5 separate regions of the Homo sapiens genome follow, and regions 1, 3, 4 and 5 are each reported to be linked to region 2. The links are microRNA targets in miRTarBase. Many come from high-throughput screens and were not tested one by one. Region 2 holds a microRNA gene; each other region holds the end of a gene's coding sequence.

The links. Region 2 holds the annotated microRNA hsa-miR-766-5p (AGGAGGAAUUGGUGCUGGUCUU, at 2,030-2,051, shown strand). A microRNA usually pairs through its seed, bases 2 to 8, with sites in the 3' UTR of a target mRNA and lowers its output. Matches are read on the target gene's strand: a 7mer-m8 pairs with bases 2 to 8, a 7mer-A1 pairs with bases 2 to 7 and ends in A, and an 8mer does both.
Region 1: the mRNA of GMEB2 is a reported target of hsa-miR-766-5p. Seed matches in the 3' UTR shown: 7mer-m8 at 1,132-1,138, 7mer-A1 at 1,472-1,478 and 7mer-A1 at 3,100-3,106.
Region 3: miRTarBase lists STARD3 as a target of hsa-miR-766-5p. Seed matches in the 3' UTR shown: 7mer-m8 at 4,265-4,271.
Region 4: the mRNA of MUCL3 is a reported target of hsa-miR-766-5p. Seed matches in the 3' UTR shown: 7mer-m8 at 2,105-2,111 and 7mer-m8 at 2,381-2,387.
Region 5: the mRNA of WRN is a reported target of hsa-miR-766-5p. Seed matches in the 3' UTR shown: 8mer at 3,958-3,965, 7mer-m8 at 3,835-3,841 and 7mer-m8 at 3,742-3,748.

Annotation. Positions count from the first base shown.
Region 1 is chr20:63,584,997-63,591,007 of GRCh38, reverse strand. GMEB2 (glucocorticoid modulatory element binding protein 2) reads left to right here. Exons shown (of 10, transcript NM_012384.5): 10 at 279-3,403. The coding sequence ends at 919. Among named protein-coding and RNA genes, the nearest start is that of HELZ2, 14 kb to the right of the region's middle. RefSeq lists enhancers at 511-680, 2,598-2,767, 3,361-3,530 and a cis regulatory region at 3,445.
Region 2 is chrX:119,642,839-119,648,849 of GRCh38, reverse strand. MIR766 (microRNA 766) reads left to right here and starts at 2,002; the gene lies at 2,002-2,112. The region is part of intron 5 of SEPTIN6 (septin 6); the gene reads left to right. RefSeq lists an enhancer at 769-948.
Region 3 is chr17:39,662,422-39,668,257 of GRCh38, reverse strand. It overlaps STARD3 (StAR related lipid transfer domain containing 3), which reads right to left. Exons shown (of 15, transcript NM_006804.4): 15 at 4,057-5,454. The coding sequence ends at 5,350. TCAP (titin-cap) reads right to left here and starts at 2,909. Exons shown (of 2, transcript NM_003673.4): 1 at 2,789-2,909; 2 at 1,704-2,542. The coding sequence starts at 2,898. The coding sequence ends at 2,149. It also overlaps a transcript of PNMT not described here. RefSeq lists enhancers at 1,015-1,752, 1,753-2,490.
Region 4 is chr6:30,951,669-30,957,679 of GRCh38, forward strand. It overlaps MUCL3 (mucin like 3), which reads left to right. Exons shown (of 3, transcript NM_080870.4): 2 at 1-831; 3 at 1,303-2,553. The coding sequence ends at 1,449. HCG21 (HLA complex group 21) reads right to left here and starts at 3,194. Exons shown (of 3, transcript NR_138040.1): 1 at 3,109-3,194; 2 at 694-863. RefSeq lists an enhancer at 4,044-4,724.
Region 5 is chr8:31,172,725-31,178,565 of GRCh38, reverse strand. It overlaps WRN (WRN RecQ like helicase), which reads right to left. Exons shown (of 35, transcript NM_000553.6): 35 at 2,428-5,571. The coding sequence ends at 5,464. It overlaps LOC105379358 (a long non-coding RNA gene), which reads right to left and starts at 1,491. Exons shown (of 2, transcript XR_007060884.1): 1 at 933-1,491; 2 at 1-478. RefSeq lists an enhancer at 5,318-5,841.

The DNA.
Region 1 (6,011 bases), not on the chromosome of region 2:
GACGGGATTGCCACGCTTGCACACAGGCCCCGGGTCAGTGCAGACCCTGGGTCAGCACAGGCTGGTGTCTACCCCGAGGGCCATCTTGGGCCCCGTCTCCCACAGACCTCACCTTTGGCGGCCATGTGGTCATCTGGGTTTGTGGCATCAGGTGAGCAGACCTGGGTTGCCACTGACCCAGGGGCCACCCAGATGGTGTGGCGTGTCTGCCCCCATCCCCTGCATGCCGCCATCCATGCCCCCGTCCCCTGTGTGATGCCATCTGTACCTCCCTGCAGCCCTGGAGCAGCAGTGTGATGAGCATCGTCGCCGAGCCAAGGAGCTGAAGCACAAGTCCCAGCACCTCAGCAACGTGCTCATGACGCTGACGCCGGTCTCCCTGCCACCGCCTGTGAAGCGGCCCCGGCTTGCACGTGCCACATCAGGACCGGCCGCCATGGCCTCGCAGGTGCTCACCCAGTCTGCCCAGCTGGCGCTTGGCCCGGGCGTGCCCGTCCCCCAGCTGACCAGCGTGCCCCTTGGTAAAGTGGTGTCCACCCTGCCGTCCACCGTCCTGGGCAAGGGTTCCCTTCAGGCGCCCCCCGCCAGCTCCCCGGCCTCCCCGCTGCTCGGGGGATACACAGTCTTGGCCTCTTCCGGCTCCACCTACCCCAGCACAGTGGAGATCCACCCGGACGCGTCCAGCCTCACGGTCCTGAGCACGGCCGCCGTGCAGGACGGTAGCACGGTGTTCAAGGTGGTCAGCCCGCTACAGCTGCTCACGTTGCCTGGCCTGGGCCCCACCCTGCAGAACGTGGCCCAGGCCTCGCCTGGCTCCAGCACAATTGTGACAGTGCCCGCAGGGGCTGCCCCCGGGCCTGAGGAGCACACGGCCACCATTGAGGTGGCTGCCATGGCAGAGGACCACGAGCGGAAGTAGCCGACAGGAGGGCGAGGCCCCTGGGACGGACAGGGCTGGCTGTCTCTCAGCCGCGGCAGCAGGGAGCGGGCAGAGGCCGCAGGGCTGGCTCGGGCAGGTGGGTCACGTGGTCTGCAGAACCAAAGAGAGGAATCGCCAAAACAAATCACGAGAAGAGAGAAGGGGACAGAACAGCGAGAGCAACCTGGAAAATCGGTCTTCAGGTCCCACGTTTCCTCCCCCTTTTTTCTTGGGAAATATATTTTTCCATCTGTTGCTTATTAATACTGTTTACACATTGGGCCTTGATCAGGAGCCAGGTGGGCGGGGGCTAGGGGGAGCCTGGGTGCAGCAGAGACAGAGGAAGCAGAGCCAGGTGCCGAGCGCGACCCTGCAGGTGCTGGACGCGGTGCAGCAGGTCACGAGGCCCCCATGTCTGCACCCAGCCAGGTCCCTGGGGACGTTACTAACTCATGACTTGGGAGCTAAGCCCAAGTGTGAAACCTCTGGATCCTATGGATTTGGTTTCTTCCCACAGTTTTCTGTAGGTTTAGTGTGGCTGGCGCCCCGTTCTCCTCCAGTTGGGAACATGCACCCGGAGCTTGGGGTGCAGATCCTGATGGGTGCCTGCCTCCCCCGCCCCCAGCCGGTGCTCAGGTGGCCCAGGGGCCGCACAGACGAGGCGTGGTCCAGGCATTGTTGCACATGTACTGAGGGTGTTTTTAAGTGAATTGCTTAGTAGGCTTCTAGGAAGAGTCAGATTTATAGCATTTTCAACCAAAATAATGGTGAGTGCCTAGGCTTCCCGAGTTAGCTCTTTGGGTGGCCCCTGAGCCCCTGTGAGTGCACTTGACCGGGTGCGGAGGTCCTGGGCAGCCTGTCCCTGAGCCGGCCCCTCCCAGGGGTCTGAGATCCATGAGGTGTGTCCCTAGGGCTTCAGTCCTGGGGCAGAGGCATAAACAGAACCAGTCACTATGGAGGTCGAGGATTCCCATGTGGGCCCTTCAGCTTGGGCTGCTTGGCCACGGAACAGCCCTTGGCTCCCTGGCCCCCGGCCCCCATGCAGCCCCTGGGCTGGCCCTTGGTGGTCTCTGTCCAAGGGAGAGCCCCTGGGTGTTCAGGAGGCTGCCCCGGGTGGGCTGCTCAGGGCAGCTGCCGAAGGTGGAGCCCAGAGCCTGTCTGGAAGGGCTGTCTGTGGCTGTCCTGAGACCTGGCCTTGGACTCACAAGGAAGACCAGGCTGAGGCCCCTCCAGGCCAGGGTCCTGGGGCAGGCATCTCAGGGAGCAGCCAGCCCAGGCCTCCTGCCGTCTCCAACAGGGCATGTCCCGGGAGGACCCTGAGTGCCAGATTCCCCTGGACGCTCCTGCTGATTCTGTCGGCAGTTGAAGGCCCGTCTGAGGCCCCGCAATGCGAGGGTCCTGTGTCCCACTTCACTGCTCCGAAGGGAACTGGCTGGCTGTCCGTCCAGTGAGCGGCCCAGACCCCACCTCTGCGCCATTGTCACCAGGGCCCTGTCCTGGCTGCCCTCACCCATGTCAAGCTACTGAGGCTGTGTCTTGTTTGTTTTCTCTGTTACATTTTTGTTTGCTGTTGTCACAGTCAGCTGGTTTCGGCGTGATGTTGATCTTTTGATGTACATACTCCGTTTTAAACTCATTTCCACTCTAGTTGAGTTCTGCAGCATGCAGCGGTATGACCCTACGGGGGTCAGGAGAGCCCTGCGGCCCCCACCCACCAGCTCAGAACCTGTCACTAATACAGCTGCCTGTGACCCTGGGACCCGCAACCTTCCAGCTGCTTCCCTTTGTCAAAGTCACGAGTGCGTCTGCCTTGACAGCCCTCGTCAACAGAACTTCCAGTGGGTTGTGGGTTCATTTCCTTTCTTTTTAAGAACAGGGTTGGGACCTTTTCTGCCCCTGCCCCTTAGCTACTGAGGCATAGGGAGAGGAAGTTAATTTCAGAGCCATACAAAAATAAGCCACAACCAGCTTCAGAATTAATTCCCAATCCCCCATTCCACCAGGGCTGGGAGCCCATTCCCAGTGCTTCCCAAGGCCCTCGGGGACATCTACCGCCAACCCAGCTGCTTCTGGCAGGGGCTCCAAGCCCCAGCGTGGGGAAGGGCCCTGGAGAAGCCCTCATCCTCATGGGAACCACACTGCAGTGGGTGGGGAAGGTTGTTGTCAGCACCGCCCCCGGCTCCTCCAGGTCCTGCTGGCTCCTCGGGGGCAGGGTTCCCTGGACCTCCCAGTTCTGCGCCTTGGGGCCAGCCAGTACTCAGAGAGGAGGACCTTCTCAACCACGTACAGAACACGGGTTTTCATGGCTGCCTTTGGTTTGGTTTTCTGAGAAGATAGGATTGGATTGGATTTTGCAGAGGGTGAGAACTTCTCTGTGCCTGCTCAGAGGCGCCCTAGGGAAGGGCCATGTTTGAGTTTTGCTTTGTATGTTGTTTTGCAAGTATCTGCCTGGTACTTTGATTTAAAATAAAAACAATTTTCATAGTTTGAGTGTCTATCTCTTGGAATGAAGTGTGGAGAGAAATCAAGTCTATAAACACGCCCAACGCAAACAGCGCTGGCTGCCACCCCCGCCCCGGACCACTCACACCCACATGCTTCGTTCTTCCAAGTGTGGCCTGGGGGCTTCAGGACCCTTCCAGGGTGTCCCGAGGTCAAAGCTGTTTTCATCACAGCAGGTGCCCTGTGCCCTTGTCCTTCTCTCCCCAGCACGCATCGGAGTTTTCAAGAGGCCTGGTGGGAGGATCATGGCCGTTTTAGTCGTTAGTGCTACTGTAACAAAATACCGCAGGCTGGGGGGCTTGCAAGCAACAGAGGTTCATTTATGCAGTTCTGCACGCTGGCAAGTCGGAGATCAAGAGCATCAGCCGATTTGGTGCCTGGTGAGGGTTTTGAATCAGCCGATTCGGTAACTCGTGAGGGTTTTGAAGGTGTCCTGCAAATCGCTGGAGGACAATAGTAAGAACAGCCTGGGCCCCACCTTGACCCGAGGCTGGCGTCGGAGGCACCGCCGCTCACAGGTAAGGAGACCTCTCAGTGGCACAGGGGCCTGCGCCCGCCAGTCAGGAGCTCAACAGACTCACGCCCAGGGGGGCCCCTTCCTCCCCTCTCCCAGGTTCAGTCCCAGAGCCTTCTCGTCACCAACGCTGTTCCCCTCCCTGCTGCCATGGTCCACCCAAGGCCATAGGAGCCTGCACACCAGCCACAGGCCAGCCTCCCAGACTCACGGCCCAGCAAGAGGCAGACATAGAAGTCCACGCTGTGTGGTCACTGGGTGTGGTGGCTCCCGCCTGTCATCCTAGCACTTTGGGAGGCTGAGGCGGGTGGATCACCTGAGGTCAGGAGCTTGAGACCAGCCTGGCCAACATGGTGAAACCCCATCTCTACTAAAAATACAAAATTAGCTGGGCGTGGTGGCAGGTGCCTGTAATCCCAGCTACTCGGGAGACTGAGGCAGGAGAATCGCTTGAACCTGGGAGGCAGAGGTTGCAGTGAGCCGAGATTGCACCACTGCACTTCAGCCTGGGCGACCAGAGTGAAATTCTGTCTCAAAAAAAAAAAAAGTCCATGCCGCGTGGTTCCACTTAGGAAAGTTGGACACGTCCCTCAAGGCAGAATGGCATCGAAAGCCGGGTCACTGGGTGCCCTCCGGGACGGTGGCTGGAGGGGCACAGGGCGCTGGTTCCAAGAGTCCACTCTGAAACCTGCCCTTCTGCCATGGCTGCTCTTCCACGCTTGTGCCCTGCTGCAGCCCAGAGCTGATAAACGCACAGGCATGTCCTTCCAGCACACATTGGCACGGGACCACCCTCCCCACAGGTCATCTGTCAGCTCCTCAGATTCCATGTGTACAAGACAGAGCTCCTGCTTCATATTCCCTCCCATGCTCTGTCCCCATCGTGCCCCGTCGGGGAGGGGAGCACCAACACCTGCCCACAGGCTCAGCCCACCTTCCTGCAACCTCACATCCACGATGCATCCCCTTCTTGTGAGGCCAGGCCCCCTCCATCTCTCTCAGGTCGATGTAACTACCCGGTTCCCACCTCTGGCCCTTCCTACCCTCCTGCTACCCTTCCGGCTGTGACCCTTCCCATTTGCTGACACGTCCTGAGCACCCCCATCATTCCCTCTGCCCCTGGAGGGGGCTGCACCCCTCAGTATCCCACCATGATATCTCCTCCTCCTGATACTTCATGGGGTTTCAGAGGCCACAAGATACAAACCTACAAGGGGTCATGTCTTGTACCCACTGAGTGTCCCCAGGAGCCGGTGCAGCACTGGCCACTCCTCAGCTGAGGACACAGGAGTGGGGAGTGGGCTGTGGCCTGTCCAGCCCAGGGCACTCCAGAAGGCAGAGTCCCCACAGAGGGTGGAGTGCTTTGTGACATGCCACTGTTTGGATGGGCCACAGTATACCATTCAGCGACTGAGGGACATCTTGGTTTCTTCCAAGGTTTGGCAATTATGAGTAAAGCTGCTGTTAAAAACCCTCGTGCAAGTTTTTGTGTGGACCTAAGCTTTCAACTCATCTGGGTAAATACCAAGGGGTGAAACTGCTAGATTGTGTGGTAAGAATGTATTTCATTTTGTAAGAAACTACTGAAGTGTCTTCCGCCAGTGGCAGCACCATCTCGCATTCCCACCCGCAATGACTGAGATTCCTGTTGCTCCACGTCCTCACCTGCAATGACTGAGATTCCTGTTGCTCCACGTCCTCACCTGCAATGACTGAGGTTCCTGTTCCTCTACGTCCTCACCTGCAATGACTGAGGTTCCTGTTCCTCTACGTCCTCACCTGCAATGACTGAGGTTCCTGCTCCACGTCCTCACCTGCAATGACTGAGGTTCCTGCTCCACGTCCTCACCTGCAATGACTGAGGTTCCTGCTCCACGTCCTCACCTGCAATGACTGAGGTTCCTGCTCCACGTCCTCACCTGCAATGACTGAGGTTCCTGTTCCACGTCCTCACCAGCATTTGGCGTTGTCAGCGTTTTGGGTTTGGGACATTCTTTATTTTTATTTTTATTTTTTTCAAGATTGAGTCTCACTCTGCCGCCCAGGCTAGAGTGCAGTGGCACCATCTCCGCTCAC
Region 2 (6,011 bases):
AGTTTTTCCTAATGACATAATGCCTGGGTATAGCCAAACTCAGGAAAGCCTTGTAATAAAAGCCATTTTTAGAAAACTTTCCTGCTGCCACTGCCCTCTAAGTTATCATTACAACTTCAGCTGCCACCTCCTATGAATTGGCCAACAAATTAGCATAGCAGGGCAGCAAGTCATTGTCTCTCCTGACTTCCTGTCCATCAGTACACCCGAGATGTGTTTGTTATCACCATCACCATCTTAGACAAATCTGGCTCAAGGGTAAGGCTATCTGGAGCATGGTAGGTAGAGATAGGTCTTCTCTGACCGGCCGTGGGCATGGAAAAAATAAAAAAGATTAGCACTTGTCCTCTCGAGAAGTCAGGGCATTTTGATGGAAACTAGGCTCTGTTATGAAGAGACAGCCTAGTCTGCAGAAAAACGGGAGCCTCGCGAGAAGTGTCATCTGGGTGCCACGGGCACTGATGTCTGGAAGCGTCTAGTCACCTCAGGACATCAGTCCCCATAGAGACCTTCTGAACACTGATGCCCTAAGTCATCAAGCAGCTTGCAGGCTTGTGGTTTGCTTTGCTAAGAATAAATAGGGACTGAGAGTACTCAGCCATCTCAAGGTGTCACACAGAACCACATCTTGGTACCTCATGGATTAGGAGTGATAATCATCCTGGGCTCTGTTCTCAGCTCAGCTCTGGCCTCCTGCTAAGCCTAGGGTAGGCTCAACCTCAAGGCTGGAAACCCCCAAGCTAGGCAGCAGCAGTTGTCAAGCATGCTGTTATGGCTGTGAAGGGATTCTGGGTCCTTTATTACTCATAATTGTGTTTCACTTTGAGAAACAAAATTCGAGGCTGAACAACATAGTGAGACCTCATCTCTACTGAAATTTAAAAAAAATTAACTAGTGGCCGGGCGCGGTGGCTAACGCCTGTAATTCCAACACTTTCGGGGGCCAAGGCAGGTGGATCACCTCAGATCAAGAGTTCGAGACCAGCCTGACCAACATGGAGAAACCCCGTCTCTAGTAAAAAGACAAAATTAGCCAGGCATGGTGGCGCATGCCTGTAATCCCAGCTACTCAGGAGGCTGAGGCAGGAGAATCGCTTGAACCCAGGAGGCAGAGGTTGCAGTGAGCTGAGATCTCGCCTTTGCACTCCAGCCTGGGCAACCAGAGCAAAACTCCATCTCAAAAAAGAAAAAATTAACTGGTGCTGTGGCGCACACCTGTAGTCTCAGCTACTTGGTCGGTGGGTGGCCTAAAGTGGGAAGATTACTTGAGCCTGGGAAGTTGAGGCTGCGGTGAACCCTGATCGAGCCACTGCACTACTGCAGGCTGGGTGACAGAGCAACACCCTGTCTCACAAAAAAAAAAAAAGAGAGAGAGAAAGGAAAGGAAAGAAAAAGAAAGTAAATAAAGAGAGAAAGAGAGAAAGAAATAAAAAGGAAGGAAGGAAGGGAGGAGGGAGGGAGGGAATTCCAGTGGAAGGAAGGAAGGAAGGAATGGAGGAAGGGAGGGGAGGGGAGGAGAGGAGAGGAGCAGGGAATTCCAGTGGATTCAGGATTATCCCTATCATAAATCACTCACCACTTACTCCCTTGCATCCTACTGTGCTTTGTTTTTTTTTTGAGACAGGCTCTCACTCTGTCGCCCAGGCTGGAGTACAGTGATGCAATCAATTTCAGCTCACTGTAGCCTCCACCTCCTGGGTTCAACTAATCCTCCTGCCTCAGCCTCCCGAGTAGCTGGGACCACAGGCATGCACCACCATGCCCGGCTAATCCACTATGGGTTTTTTTTGAGTGGGAAAGAGAGGAGTGGCCTCACAGCTAGTGTGCCTGAATTGGCATGCCTGTGAGAGGAGCTTGCATGTGAGTGTTTTGTGTTACATGCGCTGTGATGGGAAAGAGGGTGCTATCAAATATACACAGAGGATTGCTTAGCCTGCCTGCCACCGAACAACTATGTCAAAAGTCCCCAGAGTCTTCACACAAGCCGTGGTGTATGAAGCTGCATCCTCAGGACCTGGGCTTGGGTGGTAGGAGGAATTGGTGCTGGTCTTTCATTTTGGATTTGACTCCAGCCCCACAGCCTCAGCCACCCCAGCCAATTGTCATAGGAGCTGGATTGGAAGAAGCGGAAGAAATCTGTTGCCTGAGTGGAGAAGACTGTACAATGTCCTGTCTCTCACCATGGGGGATTTTTGTGGCAGGAAATGAGAGTAATGAGGTCCCTGCCACCACCTTGAATTATGGGTGGCTCCAGAAAACCTTATTGTAGATTGAGGGGGAAGAGAAGGGAGAGCGAGGTCTTGTTGCATGCTATTTTCAACCCATGCTCTGATATCTCTCAAGGTTGTAGACTTTAATACTAAGAATTGCTATGTTATTTTAAATTTAATGATGTTCTTTGAATGGCTGAAAGCATGGCCAGGACCAGCAAAAAGGCCCAGTTACTTAATTGACTGAGCTCCATTAATTGTCCATTTGTGAGGTCTGGGGTTTGGTTCCCACAAAGGCAATTGACATTTGGGCCCAGTGAGAACACATGGCTGAACAGTAGGGTCATAGGAAGACCCACAGGCACAAGTCCATCCCTTCCTCTGAGACAGCAATGGTATTTCCATTGTTGCCATGTACTTTTACAGGAATCACCAGTGGTTGACTTGAGAGCAAATCAGCCAATGGTCTTGTTCAGTCACCAGCAGGGGCCTGAAATGGGGACTAACATAACTGGGAAACACTGTCCACCCTGGGAGGAAACCAAGCCCAATCAGAATATTATCATTAGATGAGGAATAAAGAGTTCTGACAGTGTGTATTTCACTGGGCTAAGCAGTCACCTAGCCTCCCAAGTATAATGGATGTGGTGAAATAAGAATAAAGTAACTCACGCCAATTGGATTATTAAGTACTTTACAATGTACAAGAAGAATTTAAGTTAGACACAAGTCAGTAAAGGTGGTGCTATGGTTTGATTGTGTCCCCTCCAAAATTCAGGTGTGGCCAGTATGATAGTATTAAGAGGTCGGGGCTGGGTGCAGTGGCTCACACGTGTAATCCCAGCACTTTGGGAGGCCAAGGTGGGCGAATCACAAGGTCAAGAGATCGAGACCATCCTGGCCAACATGGTGAAACCCCGTCTCTACTAAAAATACAAAAAATTACCAGGCGCAGTGGCTCATACCTGTAATCCCAGCTACTTGGGAGGCCGAGGCGGGTGGATCACCTGAGGTCGGGAGTTCGGGACCAGCCTAACCAACATGGAGAAACCCCGTCTCTACTAAAAATGCAAAATTAGCCGGGCATGGTGGCACATGCCTATAATCCCAGCTACTCAGGAGGCTGAGGCAGGAGGATCGCTTGAACCCAGGAGACGGAGGTTGTGGTGAGCTGAGATCACGCCATTGCACTCCAGCCTGGGCACCAAGAGCAAAACTCCATCTCAAAAAAAAAATAGCTGGGCATGGTGCCACACACCTGTAGTCTCAGCTACTCGGGAGGCTGAGGCAGGAGGATCACTTGAACCCGGGACGCGGAGGTTGCAGTGAGCTGAGATCACGTCACTGCACTCCAGCCTGGCGACAGAGTGAGACTCCGTCTCAAAAAAAAAAAAAAAAAAAAAGGTAGGGCCTTTAGGAATTGATTGGGCCTGGCCAGGCGCGGTGGCTCACACCTGTAATCCCAGCACTTTGAGAGACCAAGGCGGGTGGATCACCCAAGGTCAGGAGTTCAAGACCAGCCTGGCCAACATGGCGACATCCTGTCTCTACTAAAAATACAAACATTAGCTGGGCGTGGTGGCAGGCACCTGTAATCCCAGCTACTCAGGAGGCTGAGGCAAGATAATCGCTTGAACCCGGGAGGCGGAGGTTGCAGTGAGCCGAGATCGTGCCATTGCACTCCAGCCTGGGCAACAAGAGCGAAACTCTCATCTTAAAAAAAAAAAAAAAATGTGATTGGGCCATGAGGGCTTCTCCCTTGTTAATGGGATGAAGGCCCTTTTTTTTTGAGATGGAGTCTCGCTCTGTCGGCCAGGCTGCAGTGCAGTGGTGCGATCTTGGCTCGGCTAACCACAACCTCCGCCTCCCAGGTTCAAGCAATTCTCTGCCTCAGCCTCCCGAGTAGCTGGGATTACAGGCGCCCGCCACCACGCCCGGCTAATTTTTGTATTTTTAGTAGAGATGAGGTTTCACCATCTTGGCCAGGCTGGTCTTGAACTCCTGACCTCGTGATCCACCTGCCTTGGCCTCCCAAAGTGCTGGGATTACAGGCGTGAGCCACCACACCTGGCCGAAGACCCTTTTTAAAGAGACATCATGCAGTGTTGGGCTAGCTTGTCCTTCTGCTGTGTGAGGATGCGGCAAGAAGGTCCTCACCAGACCAGAATGCTGGTGCCTTGATCTTGGACCTCCCAGCCTCCAGAACTATGAGGAATAAATTTTTTTTTTTTGAATAAATTTCTATTGTTGATAAATTACTCAGTCTCAGGTAGTTTACTGTAGCAAGACAAAATGCACTAAGACAGATGGTGAATCTAGGAATGGACTCCCAAGGAAGGCTTGCGACTATCTCTTGTTGGAGTTTTCTGACACTGGGAAATCTGATATCCGAGGGCGCCTCATTGGAAGTCTGAGTGAGAGAGTCACACAGACTCTCCTGAGAGGCCTGTTTGTGTTTCAGCAGCAACACTGCCCTGCATCTATCAGAGTCTCTTCCCTGGGTCCACACATAGAAAATGTCACCACTGTCTGTCAGTTTCCTGCAGAGACCTGGGAAAAATAGCAGAAAGCCTGGCCTCAGATTTGGATCCCATTGGTAGGACCTAGAAGTATGGTCCGTGGTGGTGCGGGGGGAGGGTGGGTATCTGCTCTCTGCTCTGCTCGACTCTATTCTGGTTGTCAAAGCCATCTGTCTCTCAAAAGCAGTGGAACAGAGGGCCAGAGCCTGGTCCCCATGATTTCCTGCTTGTCATGGTTTGCTTCCTTCTAGCAGATGCCATGTAGCCAGGAGGCAGAGTGCGGACCACCCTAGGTGGCTGGGAGAGGTTGGCAGCCAAAGCTCGGTGGCCTCGCTGCTGCTTCAGAGGATCTGGGCATGGGGGTTAGGGACCTAGGCAACTCGTTTAACCTCCATGTATCCCAGTTCCCTCAGCTCACGAATGGATCTTTTAATCATTGCCATAGAAGGATGTTGTGAAAATCAAACCAAAGGAGAGCGCTGGGAAATGCCTACCTTGCATATACTTATCAAAGCAGACTGACGCCAGCTGCAAAGGAGCGTGCTGTGGGAGGGCTGGGGCTATGTTTTTGAGCTAGAAGAATAAAATGACAGCAGTTTGAGAAAGAGGGGGAAGCAAGTCACCCTATCATTCTGACGGTGTCTCTTGATGGTAAAAATGCAACAGGCCCGAGGGAATACTGACATTTTTGTATGCCTTTGTTTTCTTCTTGGTTTTTTTTTTCCTCGAGCTCAGAGAAGCACCTCCCAATTCACATGCCTTCCTCCTCCATCACTTACAGCTGAGAGCCCAGGAGGAGGGAGTGCTACAACGTGGTTTTTCTTTATCACCTCCTCCCTCAGTCTAGCTCTCTGCATTCGCCACCCCTTGGCTCTTCTGTGTCATGTGGCTGAAGCTGTGGGGTCTCTCCAGGGGAAATGTCCTCCCAGAAAGTGTTTAGGGGTGGATTCGAGGCTCCCGATATGTCTTAGGTCCCTGAGTAGGGATGAATTGTGCCCAGATCAACTCTCCTGGCAAAGATTGGACATGCTTAGGCCCTTGGGCAGCATTTTCAGGAATTCAGTGCTTCCCAAATGCCCTGTGTGTCACTTGCCCAGTTACTCTTTTGGTCATTCCCCTCCCAGGACTGATGAAACATTTCCCACCTCCACCCCACACCCACCTTCCATAATCCATAACCTCCTCTTTCCCATGTCCAGATTTAAGGGACAGTCAGTGGAGTGGGGAGGGGTCGGAGGGTGTCTGAGACGATCGTCTGATAGCAGCTGAGAGTGGAGAGGGT
Region 3 (5,836 bases), not on the chromosome of region 2:
GTCCCCCACACCCCCGGCTCCGTACTTGCTCCCGCAGCCCTCGCCCTCCGCCTCGCCTGCCCCGCCCCGAGTCCCGCCTCTGGGCGCCCCCCACCCTCAGTTCCTCACCCCCACAATCTTTAGACCCCCTCACCCCCGCCGGCCGGCCCCTCCCATCTCTCTTCTCCAGCCCCCCGCAGCCATTCACCTCTTTTGCCCAGCAGCCCGCCCCTTCTCTTTCCTGATTCGAGGTGGAGACTGGGGAATTAGGCCCTTTCCCCAGTTTCCCCCTCGCAGCGCCCTCCGCGACGAGGCCCCAGACCCCGCCAGGCTCCCCTCCCTCCCGGACACCCGTCCCAGCACCCACCCTTCCCTTAGAACTGCCACACAACTCCCCCTCCCCGCCCCTCCTCCAGGCCTCTCTCGTCCGTTGCTATGCCACCGGGCCCTCCAGCGACACCCCCTCCCCACCCCGCCCCAGAAAGGACAGTCCGTTCCGGCCTCCGCTGTGGTCGCTCCGGGGGCCCCAGAGCAGGGCGCGGCACTGCCCGTCCGATGGCAGGCGCGATAGGGGAGGTGAGCTGTGCTAATGCACTTAGCGGGCGGAACAGCCGGGCCTCCCCTGCGGGCCCCGCGGGTTCCCAGCCGCTTATCTGGGGGCTCCCGAGGACAGAAGGTTCGGGTTCGGGTTGTTCCCGCCACTTCGGGGGCGGCGCCGGACCCGGGTGAGGGCAGAGGGCTTGGGCAGGGGAGGGGCAGGACGCATTCGCGGAGGGCCGCCGGGGCCACCGGGGAGCGCAGTCCGGGCCTTGGGGCCCAGCCGATTTGGGGTCCTGCGGATGTAGGGGCTCTGACCCCACTCCTCTCGCAGCCCACCCTCCAGCTTCCCTCCGAAGGAGCGGCCAGGCCAGGCATGAAGATTCTGCTCAGCACCCCAGGTTCTGGCTGTCAAAATGCCAGGGTCTCCCCACCTATCTCCCAGATGGGAAGCCAATTCTGCCTGTGGCATCTCCGTGGTCTTCCTGAAGACCCCTTCCTTCCCCTCTGGATGAGTCCCGGGCCCTTCTGCCCTGGGTAGGTCACCAGCCCAGCTCCTGCCACCGTGGGTTCCTGGCCCCGCTTGATGTGGGCCTCCTCCATGCCATTCCCTCCCCCTTGTCCCCAGGGGAAAGTCTCCTTGGGAGAGGCAGCTAGGTTGGGACATGAGTCACCACAACAGCTGCAGGGGTCACAGAGGGGAGCCTGACCCCCTAGCACCTCCAACCTTCCCTGGCTTCCAGGGCAGGGGGTGTGGAGCGAGACACAGCTGAGGATTGATTCTGTCTGGATTCAGAACTGAGAGGCAGGTTAGTTTTAGAGGTCACTGACCCCGTTCACACCCCGAGGCAAAGCCAAGGACAGTCCTGGCACCAGCCCCTCCATATTCTCCACGAGACATCATTGAAACAAACCCTGGATGCGGATGCCAGCTGGCTTGCTGGTTACCACCCAGTGCCAGGGGGCTGGACACAGAAGCCAGGACTGGGCAGCGGTCAGGGTACGGGAAGGAGACTGGAGACAGCACCCTGTTTACAGCTCTGTCCTGCCCCCACCCCCACCCCAAGTATGGGGTGTACCCATTAGCTCTGCCATATTTAGCTCAGATGCGGAGCCTGGTCCCAGAAGTGGGCATTGAGGGGACACCCATGGGCCAGCCCCCCCAACCACAAGGAAAGAGATGCAACTCTGGCACATGATTGAGCATTTATTGCGGCACTAACAGAGGGTGCTGGGGGCCCCACCATCCTTGCCTCTGCCCTTTTCACCTCCCCCTCCCTCCCAGCTTCTTCTGCCTAGAGCGTTCCAGATTCCCCTCACATTTTCCTGGATCAGGGCCACTCCTCCCAGGCACCTCTTGCCCTCACCAGTACCTTTTGTCCCTTCTCCTGGGGCTGAGGGTCCTCAGCTGTGCTGGCCCCCAACTCTCCACCCTTAGTGCCCACTGTCTCTGCCACCCTCCCTTTGGGAACTCAGGGGGCTCAGGCATCCTGGCCTCTGGCTCCCCCCTCCCCTAGCCCCCAACTCTGGGCAAACTACAAAGCAGCCATGGCCAGCAGCTCCCCTCCACAGTCCTAGCCAGGAAGGGCCCAGCCCAGGGCGGGCACAGCGGAGCCCAAGTCACAGTCCCTCTCAGCCTCTCTGTGCTTCCTGGGACATGGAGCGGGACAGGGAGCGACGAAGTGCACCGGGCTTGCTGACAGGCACCACAGGGGGCAGCTGCTTTGTGATCTCAGCCACCTCCTGGCGGTCCACACACTGGCCACCCAGGGCTGTCTCCAGCGCCAGCAGCTCCTGAAGCTGGATGGGGGTGTCCTCACGCTCCTCCTTGGTGGCGCCCATCTTGGCAGGGGTGAAGATGGGCAGCGGCAGTACCCGCTGGTAGGGCAGCTGGTACTCCTGCAGCCCACGGCCGAGGATGCCCATCCGCATCATCAGCCAGGGCGAGCGCTGCACCAGCACCTGGCACTGCCCCTGCTGGTGGTAGGTCTCATGTCTCTGGGTGTCCTCCTCATGCAGGGAGCAGCTGGGGAGAGGGGAGGGGCAGTGAGCTCCTGGGAGCTGTTGCTCTCTGGGCACAGGCTGGGTGGGGGGCTCCCCTGGGCTGCTGGGACCTGGGGGCAGGAAGGGTGGTTCCCCTTTGCTCTCCCCATGGGGCATTCTTCCTGCCCCCACCCCCAGAAATTTCTCCAGGGCTTCATGCTCTGGCCTCATGGCTCAGTGAGGGTGCTCTGGGGGAGCAGAGGCAGGGCTCTAGCAGACCCACACTCACCCCTCCTCGGGCCGTGTGGACAGTGTCAGATCCTTCCATTCTGCCCAGAAGGCCTCCCGGCGCTCACAGTTCTCCTCCGACACCTCGCAGCTCAGCTCTGAGGTAGCCATGATCACTCCTCATTCTCTCTCCCCTCCCAGGCCCTTTAAATAGCCCCCTCCTCCCCCTTCTCCAGGGGCTATTTTCGGCCCCTCTGGTGTCAGATGCTATAAGTAGAGCCAAGACTCACTAATGGGGGGACGCCGGACCCAGGGCAGGGGTTGGGGTACCTGGACGCTGGCTGCCCCCCGGTCAGAGGTCTGGGGTCCAAGGTCCTGGGGTCAATGCCTCCAGGTGCCTGACATTACTCAGACACCGTCTCATGCCAGCCACATGCCCAGCCTTGTGCCCCCCTGGCACTTGCCCTCTGCCCCACCCACTCCCCTTTGCAGGGAGGACAGCAGCTTGTCTGTAAACAGAGCAGGACCAGCAGGAACTGATGCCCCCTCTGGGCTCTGTACCAGGGCTGCCAGGTCCTGCCCTGGCTGTGCTCTCCTCTGCCTGGGCTCAAGGGCATATCCCCAGAAGGGAGAGTGCAACCACGTCCTCAGGCGCCTGCACCAAAGGCCTAGTGCCTAGTCCCCAGTCACCCTCACCACACCAGCAGGGGCGGAGACAGTCAACTTCATGCCTGGGAACCTGGGGCATGAGCCTTGGCCAGGTGTTTTCCTTCCCCATGGCCAGTGGTCAGGTAAGTGGTCTTAGGAGACAGGTCTCAGGAGACAGTCAGGCTAGTAGGGGTGGAGGGCCCCCAGTTCTACCCCAACACCTGTGTTGGGTGAAATGGGAATCCAGGGGCTCTGATGGGTGATAGTCAGAAGGCCTGGCTCCAGATCAGCCATAAATAGGCTGTGTGACCATGGGTCAGTCCCTGCCCCTCTCTGGGCCCCTTTCCCCACTTTCTGGCCACTGCAAGAGGACCAGAAGAGCTCTGGAGCCTGCCCGCTCTGATGTGCTACCTGGGAGGGGACTGGCTCTTCTTCATGGGGAGCAGGGGAGACAGATGGCTGTGGGGACAGTCCAGCACCCCAGGAGTAGCAACTCATGGTGCAAGAGGCTGGCAGACAGGTGGTGGGTGTGGGGGGATGAGGAGTGAGAACACTGCCGAGTGGACAAAGGGTGGCAGGAGAGGCAGTGACAGGGGCTGAGCTGAGGACCCTGTGGGGACGGCAGAGTACCCAGGAGCACGTGGGTGCAGAACTGCAGACTATTGATTACTGAGCACTGTCCCCGGTTCTTCATATCTTTTAATCTCATAACAACCCTGTGACATCAGTCCCATTTTCATAAAGTGGGAAGCAGAAGCTGAGAGAGGTAGATTCGCCCAGGGTCACACACCTAGGCAGGACCGAAACAGGATCCACCTGGCTCTGAAGAAGCTGGCTCTGCTGGAAGCCTGCATGCAGGCAGGCAAGGGGGCAGGCCAGCCGGGAGGGAGGAGGAAGGCAGGCAGTGGCCTGGCCCCGCCCTGCGATCCGGGCTCCAGGCCGCCCCTGGTGTGAGTGCCGTGCGGGGAGAGGGAATGGGTGAGTGGAGTCTGGGAGGTCCGGGGCTCCAGGTGGCCTGGATCCCAGAGGTGCCTCAGTGACCCTGAAGCTCAGGCCCCATCTCCAGGCCACACAGTCAAGGCTTGCTGTGGGCACTGCCAGGTGCCCATACCCCCACCTCCATTCCTGGACTAGAGACTTTAAACTTGCCCCGCTGAAGCCTGGCAGGGGGCGGGGCATTTTTTTCTGACCAGTCATCTGCTCAGTTGAACTGGTCAGGAAAGCGGGGAGTGGGGGGTGGGCGGGGGGGGAATGGGGGGCATGTTTCAGGAACTGGCTCCCCGGGCTCCGCCCTCCTGTGAGCCCAGGAGAGGCTGTGTGAGGGGTCTTCCCTCTTCATCCAAGCTGCTGCCTGCCTTTCTCTTCCCTCAAGAGGCAAGGCAGTGGGAGGGGCTGGAATTTTTTTTTTTTTTTAAATTCATGTTTTTAATTGGCTTAATACAAAGGTCCCCCAGGAGGCCCTGGGAGGAGGGGGACAGCCTGGGAGAGGCAGAGATTCATGGCCAGCAGCCCACCCCCACCTGCCACCCACTCCCCAACAAGGGTCCCAGACTCTTTCAATAATCCTAAAAAAACCGACGAGAGCGCAGGCAGATGAAGAGCCCCTTCATCTTCACACGGGTGACAGGCTGCCCTGCCCTGCCCAGGGCCCTGGTCCTCCCCAGCCAAGTCAGGTGCCCAGCCCAGACCCTGCCCTGGCAAGGTGGGGCAGAGCAATCTGGTCCTCCAGGAGGCAGGGCGCCATGTAAACATCAACAGGCCAGACCCCACTTCCTCCAGCCAGTGGGGCCCCGGAGTCCAGTGCTCCACCCCACAGCCTGCTCAGTCAGTCAACTCCAGGCACTGCGTGGCTCGGTGGAGGGTGACAGCCTGGGGCCAGGTCCCATGTGGGCAGTGCGAGCCCAACTGGCACCCTTTCTGGCTCTGGAAGTGGTGGCGACAGGACCCTGGCCCGCAGGGTGGGAGGGGGCACAGTCACGCCCGGGCCCCCAGCTCGCTGATGCGCTGTCGCAGGTGAAAGGCAAATTCAAACATGGTGGCCGCGAGGCTCTGGTGGATGAGGTACCGGGGCAGGCGGCCCTGGGGGAAGGCAGGCAGAAGTCACACTTGATGGCCTGCCCTCAGCAGGGTCTCCCCTTGCAGCTGGCACCAGCAGGGGGGCTCTGGGCCAGAATGCAGGTGCAGCTCTGGAATCCAGCCTGGGTCGCCCTCTCCCACTCACCCCTGGCAGGAAGAACATGCTGGGCCTGGCTCTTGGCACCAGCAACACAAACAGACCAGGGTGGGGCCGGGCTGGCCACCAGCCACCCTTCCTCAGGGCCTCAGGACTCAGAGGTAAGAAGGGGGGGCACATGCCCTACAGCAACCCAGGGCTAAGAGACCATCTGGACCCTGACCCAAATTTTCAAGTAAGAAAGGTGGCTGACAAAGGGGAGGCCCAGGCATGGCAGAGAGCCCCCAA
Region 4 (6,011 bases), not on the chromosome of region 2:
ACTACATTGGCCAATGAGAAGATCACACTATCCCCAGAAGGGCCTACAGAACATGGAGCAAAAACTACGTCGGCCAATGAGAAGATCACACCATCCCTAGCAAAGCCTACAGAACATGGAGAAAGGACCACATCACCCAATGACAAGATCACCTCATCTGCAGCAGAGTCTACAGAACATAGAGATAGGGCTACATCAGCCAATGTGATCACACCAGCCCCAGCAGAGCCTATAAAACATGCAAAAAGGACCACATTGGCCCATGAGAAGATGACACAAGTCACAGAAAAGTCCACAGAACACCCAGAAAAGACCACGTCAACCACAGAGAAAACCACAAGAACCCCAGAAAAGCCTACGCTATACTCAGAGAAGACCATATGCACCAAAGGGAAAAACACACCAGTCCCAGAAAAGCCTACAGAAAACCTGGGGAACACCACACTGACCACTGAGACCATAAAAGCCCCAGTAAAGTCCACAGAAAACCCAGAAAAAACAGCAGCAGTCACAAAGACTATAAAACCTTCAGTCAAGGTCACAGGAGACAAATCTCTCACTACTACCTCTTCTCATCTAAATAAAACTGAAGTTACTCATCAGGTGCCCACTGGTTCTTTCACCCTCATTACATCTAGAACGAAGCTGAGTTCTATCACATCAGAAGCCACAGGAAACGAGAGCCATCCATACCTCAATAAAGATGGCTCACAGAAAGGTATCCACGCTGGACAGATGGGAGAGAATGATTCATTCCCTGCATGGGCCATAGTTATTGTGGTCCTGGTGGCTGTGATTCTCCTCCTGGTGTTCCTTGGCCTGATCTTCTTGGTAAGGGACAGATGTGCCCCACAGAAATCAACCTATGGGATAGGGAATTGAGGATACATTAGGGGTCAGAGTTACAGGGAATAATGAGTCTAGGAAAAGAGACATGGCAGAAGTGGGAGGAACAGTAATAGAGGGAGAGTTTTGGTGAAAACTAAGGAGAAAGACAATAAATACACAGGAGGTAAAAAGCTGGAATTGGGGACAAGGCTGTGGCTGAGAATGAAAGGGTGTGAAAGAGAAAGTGTGGGGGGTGGAGAGTCTGGGGTATGAGAATAGGAGGTGTAAAGACAAGGAGAATATGGTAGAGTGGGGAACTGGAGATGGAGCTGGGACTCATTGTATTGGACCTGGAGCTGGAATAAACATCAAGGTTTGGATGGAATCTTGAGAATAGAATCAAGACCTGAGGTGAGTGTTGTGGAAAACAAATCGCAGATGGTTCTCATTCCTCCTTTCTCATCCCAATCACAGGTCTCCTATATGATGCGGACACGCCGCACACTAACCCAGAACACCCAGTACAATGATGCAGAGGATGAGGGTGGCCCCAATTCCTACCCGGTCTACCTGATGGAGCAGCAGAATCTTGGCATGGGCCAGATCCCTTCCCCACGGTGATCTTGGAGTAGGCGCCCAGCCCTGGCTCTTCCATGCTCTGCCCCTTTCCTGGATGAGGAACCGGACTCACAATTTCTATTTCCGGGACTACAGGAAGGGCAGAGAATACTGACGGTTACCAGTATTAACCCTTCATCTGTTCTTGAAACTGGTTGGGGAATGAGGTGATAAGCAAGGAGGGTGTAAGTTTAGGGGACAAAGAAGAAAGAATGAATAATACGAGCAGACATTCTCTGTAGAAGGTAATGGTCTGAGAATGAAAAGGTGTTTGATGGACATGTTGTGGGGGCACCAATGCAGAACACTGCACTGAGTCCTAAAGGAAGGACAGGAGCCTTATAGGCAATGCCCCAGACTGACTTGTGAGTGGGGTTTATGGGGAAAGGGAGGGACTGAGGGCAGAGTCTCTGGGTTTCAGGACAGCATTATGTTATTTCCATTCACTATTACTTAAGAGTTTGTGTGTAAACAGGCTCATCTCTGAGTTCTCAGGACCCTTGCCCCCACCCCCATTTTTTTAATGAAAAAAAAAAACAAAAAAAACGGATCCAAGAAGAAAAGAGAATTTATTTCCTTCTCCACTCTCTCCATGCCCTGGAGAAAAAAAAGTCCAGAAGAAATCATAAATATCTCTCATCTACATGGTTGCTTCCTCTTCCTCCCAAATCCCTTAGTTTTCCTAAATGTCTACAGTGGACGCCCTGTTGGTTTGGCTTGCTGGGTTGTGGGTGGACACGCAAGGAGGGGATTTTTATTTGGCCAGCAGTCTCACCCACTGATCTCCACCCCAGACCTTCCCTGATTGGTGTCTCAGCATTTATTTTCCTGTCTCTTCCACCAAAAGCCAGCTGTAGCTTTATCTCGTAAAAGTTACCCATCTTCTCTACTGTCCCCATTCTCTCTCCTCCCACCTTCACCCCAGATTCAAGTTTTCCTCCTTGTAGGCATTTCATCTGTGTGTGTTTTCTGGATTTTCTCTCTCTCTTCTTATGGCCATTTCACCTTATTACTGATTGGGTAGAGGGGGAAAAGGAGAATGATGATGATAGTTTCCTTCTGTCTATTGACCTTTTTTATAATAAAGTATAACATGTTTATAAAGGGCATCATAGTTATTAGACTATCCATTGGGAGAAAGTTCTGACTGGCGTTCCTGGCTCTGGCTGAGACCTTACAGAAGTGGAGGAGACAGAGGAGCTGGAGGGCAGGACTGGCAATCTATGGAGGGTCAAGAAAGGGGAGGCTGAATTTCTATTGCTCCAAAAATGGCTCCTTTCTGGGTTTAGGTAAGAGCCAGCCTCAGTCCAGGCTGGGTTTATTTGCATGGTGACAAAATGAGTAGAAAAACCTGTCAATTAATAAGCAAGTATTTTAAAGCAACTATTATATACTCTGTTGAGGATATAAAGAAGTATAAGACATAGTTCTCACCTGAGACACAAAGACAGGAAAATTAAAATTAAATAATTCAACAAGAGTTGTCACAAGTTAGGTGCTATATAGAATAAAACAACACCCTAATTCATTAAGCCCAACTCCGTGAGCATCTACTATGCCCCCTATTTATGTTAGGACACCAGCCCTGCTCCAAAACCGTTGTGTGCCCATGTCAGTCCCAACAGAAACCTCCCATCACCCATGCAGCCTTGGCTCTCTTACCAGAGTATGGCATCATCACTAATTGAACAGGTGCCCCAGTTTGCTGCCAGGCTCCTAAACGTAACTCCATCCAGAATCAAACAGCAGGGCCACAGGTCACTCGCTATCTGCTCCTTTGGGCATCCCCATTTGCTGAAAGCTGGAAACCTATCATGGTCAGTAATCCCAACCCTGACACTGATGTCACTGAACTATCTGGCCCTGGCTGGGCTGGGAAGGCCCTTATTACTGAATCTCCCACCAGAGACCCGCTCTGCTAAAGGCAAGATTGAAGCTTGACTCTCAGAAAGCAGACATGCCAGATGCCAGAGGGACCCAGACTTAGGCCCCTGGAGAAAGGAGGCAGAGGGACACCTGGGTTCTGGAAGGGGCTGGAGAGCCCTCGAGAAAAGGAGGAAGATGCCTGGATTTTAGTTGTCTGGGTAGACGGTGACTCAGCCTGTGGCATCTGCCAGGACAGGAGTGTCTCTCTGCCCTGGGAGGGATGCAGAAACCCCTAAACTCAGCCTGGACCCCAATTCAAAAACAAAACGAAATAAAAACATCTCTGCCTCTAGAGTCCTAAACATCCAACCGGACAGACCCCTCCCCTATCAAGACACCAAAATGCAGCACTGGAGGTCAAAGGGTGTATAAGGGGGATGGGGAGGTTCTTCGCCCGGCAAAGGCGGACTGTGGGCCCTGGGGCGCGGCGGGTGTCTCCCTCCCACTTTCCTCTCTATTCCCCGCTAATTATCACTTTGAAATCTAGGCGGAAATCCTTTAACAAGCTCCGGGGCTGGGCCCTCATTAGGGATAATTACTTAATCAGTAGGACGGGAGGGAATGCGCTCCCCCAGCCCTCGGGGAGTACACCTCGGGGGGAGCGAGTGCCCCGAGGGCAGGAGGCTGCCGGGGCGCCGGAAGCTGCTGTCCCGGCGGAGTCGCAGCGGGGGCTCCGGTTCCCCGAGACTGCGGCCCTCCCTCGTTCCTCCAGGTTCCGCTTTGCGGGCGGCTTCTGATCTCTTGCGGACAGCTCAGATTAGTGGCTCGAGGCCGCCGCCCCCGCAGCGCCCCAGCCCTACTGCGCCGAATCCCCTCCTCCCAGCCCCCAGCCCCCAGGGAGGGGCCTGGACTGACGGGCCTGGGCGTAGCTCCTACCCCCGTGACATTGGCCATAAAACTGACACCCGTTTGTGCTGTGCTTTCACGTACATCGCACCTGTGATCCTCCGATCACCCTGCGAGTTACGAGGCCTGCTTTACAAGCCTTATAAGAAGTTACAGACCTTATAAGAGTTCTTATAAAGCTTGCTTTACAGATGAGAAAACCGAGGCTCAGAGAAGAGCCCTGTTCAAACCCACACGGCTCCTATGGAACAGAAGGCTTGCTTTATTTTCTCCAAGCCTCAATTTCACTTTGTTCCTCAGTGGAGCCAGGTTCTCTGACACCAAGGCAGCCCCACCTGGACGGGTGGGATGTTACAGGGACCACCTAAGGAACAGGGTGTAATTGAGATTTGCACGAGGGTGTCCAGCCCCTTCTTCCAGAGTCCAGGCCTCCCTTTCCAGCTCCTTGAACGTCCAGAGTCTTCTTCTGGCCTCACTGCCAGTATCCCAGGTCAGGGTTTTTTCTGCCAGCCTCTGTCCCCGGAGACACATTAACTGGCCTCATAGTCACAGGCTCTGCATCCTCCCCTCACAGTGCCCAGCTGTCCCTGGAGAGGTGCTGGCAAAGTAAGAAGATCCAATGATTTGGGACACAGTCACCTTCATTTTTCTCCCCTCTGCCTCCTACAAAGGCCTCTGTCCCAGAAATGAGACATCCCAGAGAAAACAGGTTTCTGCTGACCTCTGGCTGGGAGGGTGGGTCTCCTCTCCTCCCACAGATGTGATTCCCTTGTTCTCTCCCGCTCCCTCCTTCTTCCCTCATATTGTCATGGCCTTAAGATACCCCTCCCTGGAGAGGGAGCGTCCAGAAGTTACGGCCTCCCCTGCCTGGTGGCAACTATAAATGCCACAGCTATGGTCAAGTGAGAAAAGAAATTAAGCCAGACATATTGTGGGAGCAACCCTCAGAACCCAGGAATCCAGCATTCCCAGTCCCCACTCACCACTGTCTTGGAACCTACCCCAACTGATCTTACTCCTCCCAGAACCCTGCCCCTGGCAAGCTTTTAATTCTTCCTGCAACTTCATGTCCCATTGAGACACCAGGCATCAAGGCCCCCTCTGGAGCCCATCTGCCCTCTAGAACCCAGGCATTCTAGATAACAACTTCCCACATGGATTATTTCAAGATGAGGTGAGGGAAATTACCTCCCACCTCCTGCATCCAGGTGATGCTTCTCTTTGGAATCTTGAGACTGGTAAGTGAATTATCCATCAATCGGAGAAGACACTGAGGCCACAAAAAGTCTGAAGGAGACAAGGGTTCCTGTCCCAGGCATTCTGTTTGCTTTTCTTATTCTCATTCTTTTGCAAAAGCAAAAAGCAAGCAAAGATGATGAACTTCTTTTTTGCCCCTTTCTGCAAAAGCCAGTACTAACCTTAACCCCCACTAACCACGATTTTGACCCCCAACTTCACCTTGCAGCAAACCCACCTTCATCTTCCCCTTCCAATGCTCCGCTGTAAGCATGAACACAAATAATAGCTGTGTTGTATTTCCTTAGAATCCCGGGTTTAACGGCTGCTCAACAAATGCTTTGTATCTAACTTGAAAATTCTAGTTTCAATATCATCTTTAAATATTTATTAGAGCTAGGCTCCAAGTCTAAAGCCAAGTGAAATGAAAATATCACTTCCAGAAATACTGCCTAAATTAAAATCCTCAGTAGGGCTTTCATAATCCCCGGATAGAGACAGGGAGGGATCCTTCGGATCCCAGGGATACGGGAACTGTGGGTGATATTAGCCTGAAG
Region 5 (5,841 bases), not on the chromosome of region 2:
TACATTTTCTCAAGGTTTAAACACATTTACCCAGTAAGGAAACAAGTACATTATCTCAAATGATTTAGGGATTATGTTCCCAACCAAAATCTGGTAAATAACTTTTCAGATAGCTGAGACTGCTGAAGTCAGCTACCCCATCAAGGCTATAACTAACCTTCTTCACTGTTTCTGTGGTTTTGCAATTCTTTTCCATAAGACACTTCAAGTCTATTACACTCAAAAACTACTTTGAGTTCATTCCATTGGATCGTTCATGCTCTTAATTATATGCAACCTATTTGAATAGGAAGAATCCTATATTCTTTTCTTATTCTATCTGGTAGGGCTACAGCTTTTTTGAATTCCAGGCAACAGTCAGGGCTTTGTCTGAATCTATGGTCACAGGCTACACCTGGGGAATTCGCCTTCAGCTCACCTGTTCCTGTAGTAAATATTCCGTAACGTGCCGAGGTCCTTCTGGCCCAGCTACTTGCACCTGGTGATCAGGCAGGTACAATGAGCCAGAGCCTCCAAACACACTCAGGTGGTAGGGAGCGAAACTTAGAAGATAAGTTGGTGCAAAAGTAATTGCTGTTTTTACCTTTAAAGTCCCGCCCCCGCCGGACCTGGAAAAGGATGGAGAGGGGGTCTCGTCTGACTCCGCCCCCCAAGGGGAGGGAGATTTGCCTCTGAGCATGGGAAGCATGACCAGGTTTGGATCTAGGGTGCTGGGGTCCTGGTGGAGCTCCAGTGGGCCCCCTCCCTGCACCCCTGCGATTCATCCAACCTCCCTACACCCTCAAATGACAAGTTCAGCCCCCCAAAACCCCCGGTGACGAGTCCAGCCGTGCTCCCATTCTTCACAAAGGGTGAGGACGGACTTTCAAAGACTCAGAGATCCCACGGGTGTGGGTTGGAGACCTTCCTCTACCGGTTCCCAGCTCCCTTACCTGAGCACACGACTTATGCGCCATTTAATTTTCCATAAGAAATCGCTCTCATGTACTTGTTCTGTGCCATTACTTCTAATGGCAAAAACACCAGTTACTTTTGTTACCAGTGGAGGGTGTCCAGGCTCTTGGTGTCTTGAACTAAGAACTGAACAAAATGCACAAAGCAAGGAAAGAATGAAGCAAAAAAAGCATGCATTTACTGAAAATAAAGTACCCTTCACAGGCTCCAGGACTCAAGAACCAATTAGAGGCTTAAGTGAAACAACCAATCAGAGGATGAATAAAAATTTAAATAGCCCTTCCACCCTTCCACCACTTCCACCACTTCCACCACTTTGTGAAGTCACAACAGGTACACCCTATGCAAGCATCTGATTGGTTGTGGAAAGCAACCAATCAGAGGCTAAAGTGAAGTTACAAAGTTACATTTCTATGCAGGCGACTTGGCCTGCGATCCGTCTGATTGGTTACAAAGTTACATTCCTACGCAGAAGCAACCAGAGATACTTTCAATTTTCCATGTGCCACGCAGAAAGGTGTGGGGGAGGGGCAGTTGAAAGGGAGGAGCCATCTGGTACTTTTGTTATTTAGGTCTGGAAAATTGGGGTTTTCCTTTTGATTTAGTTCTAGGAAGTCAGTGTGAATCGGCCTTAGTTTCCTTGCCTCCAGACCCTATTCTCCTGCCTCACTTTTGCACCAACCTCATACAACAACCCATACAGAACTTGAAGATCCAGGAAGCCTCTGCCTCCATCCAGGAGCCGCTTCATCCTCTACTCGGTGTAACTATCTCTGAGATTCCACATCCTTTGAGATTAAAAACACTTTACATCTTCTGGGTCTGTTGACGGGTCCTTCCACCAATCACATCGCTGTGCTTCTGTGACAACTGAACACAACTGGAAGTGAAAAACAACTCCTCATTCAAAGGGGTTTAACGTAAGTAAAGGGAAGTTAATGTCCCATGTTTCTGAAATATTCAGAGGTAGGGCTCATTTCAGGAAAGGCATGAACCAGCAGCTCAGTTGGCCACACACCTACCCCAGATCCAAACGCTGTTACTAGGGTCTAGCTCAGAAGAGGTCACAGGTGCCAATCCAATATCCAGATGGAAATTATTCTCCTTGGAACGAACCCCAACAAAAATCAAGAGTCACGAAAAATGGGGAAAGAGAGAATTTATGCTGGGAAGGCATAAAGTCCACTACAGATAACATAACAACAACAACAAAATTCTCTCTCTCCCCCTCTGGCTATGATATGGTATGAGACTATACCATATTTCATTTCAAGAATGTTCAAAGCAGCTGGGCATAGTGGTGCACGCCTATAGTCCCAGCTACTCAGGAGGCTGAAGCAGAAGTATCACATGAGCCCAGGAATTCAAGGCTATAGCATGCTATGATCATGTCTGTGAATAGCCACTGCACTCCAACCTGGGCAACACAGCAAGACCCTGACTCATTTTTTAAAAAAGGTCAAAGCAGTGCTGTTTAAAACAAAAAAACTGAAAGCAACTTTAATGTCCAACAATATGAAGTAAGGTACATAATTCATGGTACACCTTTATAATAAAACATTACATCAGCATTTCTCAATCTCTTAGGTCTGAGAACCCTTCCATACTCTTAAAAAAAAATCACTGAGGACCCCAAAGAGCTTTTATTAATATGGGTTATATCTATCACTACCACTTTAGAAATTAAAACAGACATTTAAAAATGTTTCTTGTTTTATTTAAAAATAGCAGTAGTAAACCAAGTACACATTAACATAAATACTTTTAAAAAACATATTTTTAAAAACTGAGAACAGCAGCATTGTTTACATTTTGCAAATCTCATTGTCTGGCTTAACAAAAGTGGCTGTATTCTCAGATCTACTTCTGCATTCAATCCATTTTGATATGCTGTTTTGGCTGAAGTATATGAAAAAAATCTGACTTTGCACAGGCACGTAGTTGGAAAAGAGAAGAGTATTTTAATAGCCTGTTCAGATAATGGTGGACATTGTTCTCTGAAATTTTACCAAAAAGTGGACAAGTAATAGTTTCTTAAAGATTAGTTGCAGTGTGTAATCTGAAACTATATCAATAAACTTTTTCATACTCTGTTATATTCAAATATATCAAATCCATTGGTCCATCTTGTACTCTGAACAGATCTTTTACCCAGTCATGATTTCTTTTTTTATTTTTGAGACGGAGTCTTGCTCTGTCGCCAGGCTGGGGTGCAGTGGCGCAGTCTCAGCTCACTGCAATCTCCGCCTCCTGAGTTCAAGCGATTCTCCTGCCTCAGCCTCCCGAGTAGCTGGGATTATAGGCACGCACCAACACACCCAGCTAATTTTTGTATTTTTAGTAGAGACGGGGTTTCACCATGTTGGCCAGGGTGGTCTCGATCTCCTGATCTCGTGATCCGCCCGCCTCGGCCTCCCAAAGTGCTGGGATTACAGGCGTGAGCCACCGCGCCCGGCCTCAGTCATGATTTCTTAACATCACATATTAGTCATCCAGAACATACTGATTCACTGAGTTATACGGATCTTCGAAACACAGAAAAAATCTTTATATAATATCAAAAACTCACATTTGTTAATTACTATCCATCTCATTAGAAAAGGCTTTATGTAAGGCTGTGCATGGTGGCTCACACCTGTAATCCCACTATTTTGGGGGACTGAGGCGGGAGGACTGCTTGAAAGAAAGAAAAAGAGAAAGAAAAAGAAAGAAAGAGAGAGAGAGAGAGAAAGAAAGAAAGAAAGAGAAAGAAAAAGAAAGGAGGGAGGGAGGGAGGGAGGGAGGGAGGGAGGAAGGAAGGAAGGAAGGAAGGAAGGGGAAGGGAAGGGAAGGAAGGAAAGAGAGAAAGAAGAAGAGGAAGAGGAAGAAGAAGGAGGAGGAGGAGGAAGGAAGGAAGAAGGAAGAAGGAGAAGAAGAAGAATCAGAAGAAGAATTAGTAGTAGTAGTAGTGAAAGCGAAGAGAAAGAGAAGTCTTTATGTTAAGGAAAGCTGTCAAGCTTCCAGTGGAGGAACACAACTTTTCCAAAATTATACATTTTGCTAGAAATCTCCAATTTTATCATTGGCACAACAAATACCAGTTGTTTTCCGTGAAGAGGCCAACTTAGTTCAATTTTGAGAAAATGTCTGCCAAACATCCAAATCTAATAACCAATCATCGTTTTTCATTAGTCATTCTTTTCAGTGAAAATGGCAAGCCATGAAAAAAAGCAGCAAATTCAATTGGCAACTCAAATAATCAAACAAGTGCTTCTCCTGGAGACAGCCTCGTACCTAGGCATGCAGCAGACGTGTCTGTGCGTACTTGCCACTCCATCACACAGGATATTCACAGGGTATTGCAGATGCACACACAAAAGCATGCAAATGCAGAAGCCATGGCTGGACAACAACATATCACATATTTAATAGGCGCCACTACCTTCTGGTAATGCAATGCAGAAAAATGGGAATATACGAGACTTTTATATTTTAACTAAAAACAAATGAATATAAAAAAGTCTGGTGGGATACACAAAAGAGGTTGACTGTGATTAGCTACTAGTAAAACTATGAATGATTTTTATTTTCATTTTTCTCACTTCCCTGGATTTTCTAGTTCTTCTATGACAGATATATTTGTTTCTTAACAAGTTATTTTTATTTACAAAAAAGCCAATCAAAGGCTTTGAAATGGATGGTGAACTGCTTAAAGTTAAATAATCATCGTTTACCCAACTCTGTGTCACAGTATAGGTTTTAAATTAAGTCACATGTGCTACATAAGAGAGATTAGAATCAAATTCTGACATCCTGGAAAAATAAAGGTACTTAAAATAATTAAGTAAATGAAAGCTAAAAAATATATATATAATATTCAGTATGAAAAACATTGTTTTATTACTTGAAAAATAATAGAAATTGTATATAAAATACAAAATATACACTTGCCTAGTGCAATTGGTCTCCATTTTACATTTTTTACATGTTTTTTCCCTATTTAATGGCACCCAAAATGCGGTTTCATTTTCACTGCCCTGGTCAACTAATACCATTTAACAACGTATTTAAGAACTTCTTCAAAAGACAGTAAAAACAATTTGTAAAATAACTATGCTTTCTTACATTTACAAAACAGAATTTTGATAATATATGAATATTTTATATCACATAATTACCATGTAACTACTAATCTGTTATCTATATCAAATCAGAGCACATAACATTTTCCAAATACACTGTTTTAATAAAGAGATTAGAAAACAGGACAGTAACAGTTTCTTAAAGCAATCTTACAGGAAGTCTAATTTAATATTCTGTTAGGTGATGTACTCACGTAGGCTCCCAGAAGACCCAGAAACTACATGAATTGCGGAAGGCTGATTTAAGATGCCAGTTCTTCAATAAACAGTGAACTTTGTAATTAGAATGATTTTTAAGCCAAAATACTACTCCTTACTCTTCAGAAATAAAATATAGCTATCCTCTTATAATACAGCAAGAAACATAATTGTTCTGGTAATTGCCAGCTTAACTAAAAAGACCTCCCCTTTTCGTTTTGTCCATTAATTTCTTGCTGGTATCACTTCCTTTGGCAAACCACACAGGTAATCGTCTCTTTCTCTCTGCAGATGAAGTCTGTAGGAAATAGAAAGAAAAAGAAATCAAATCTTTGTACTACTGAGAAGGGGTATTAGTTGCAAAAAAGTAACATAAGTTCCTGAATACACACCCATCCTTTCTCCCCCATCCAAACAAAATAGTGGTATCTATATAATTTATTTCTGGATCAAAAAGTAAATAAATATAAGACACACAAAATCACTACATCATTTCTTCAGGCAATTACTTGCCATCTCATCATGTAGTCTTATACACTCAACACACCTCATTCAGTAAGTAAAAATC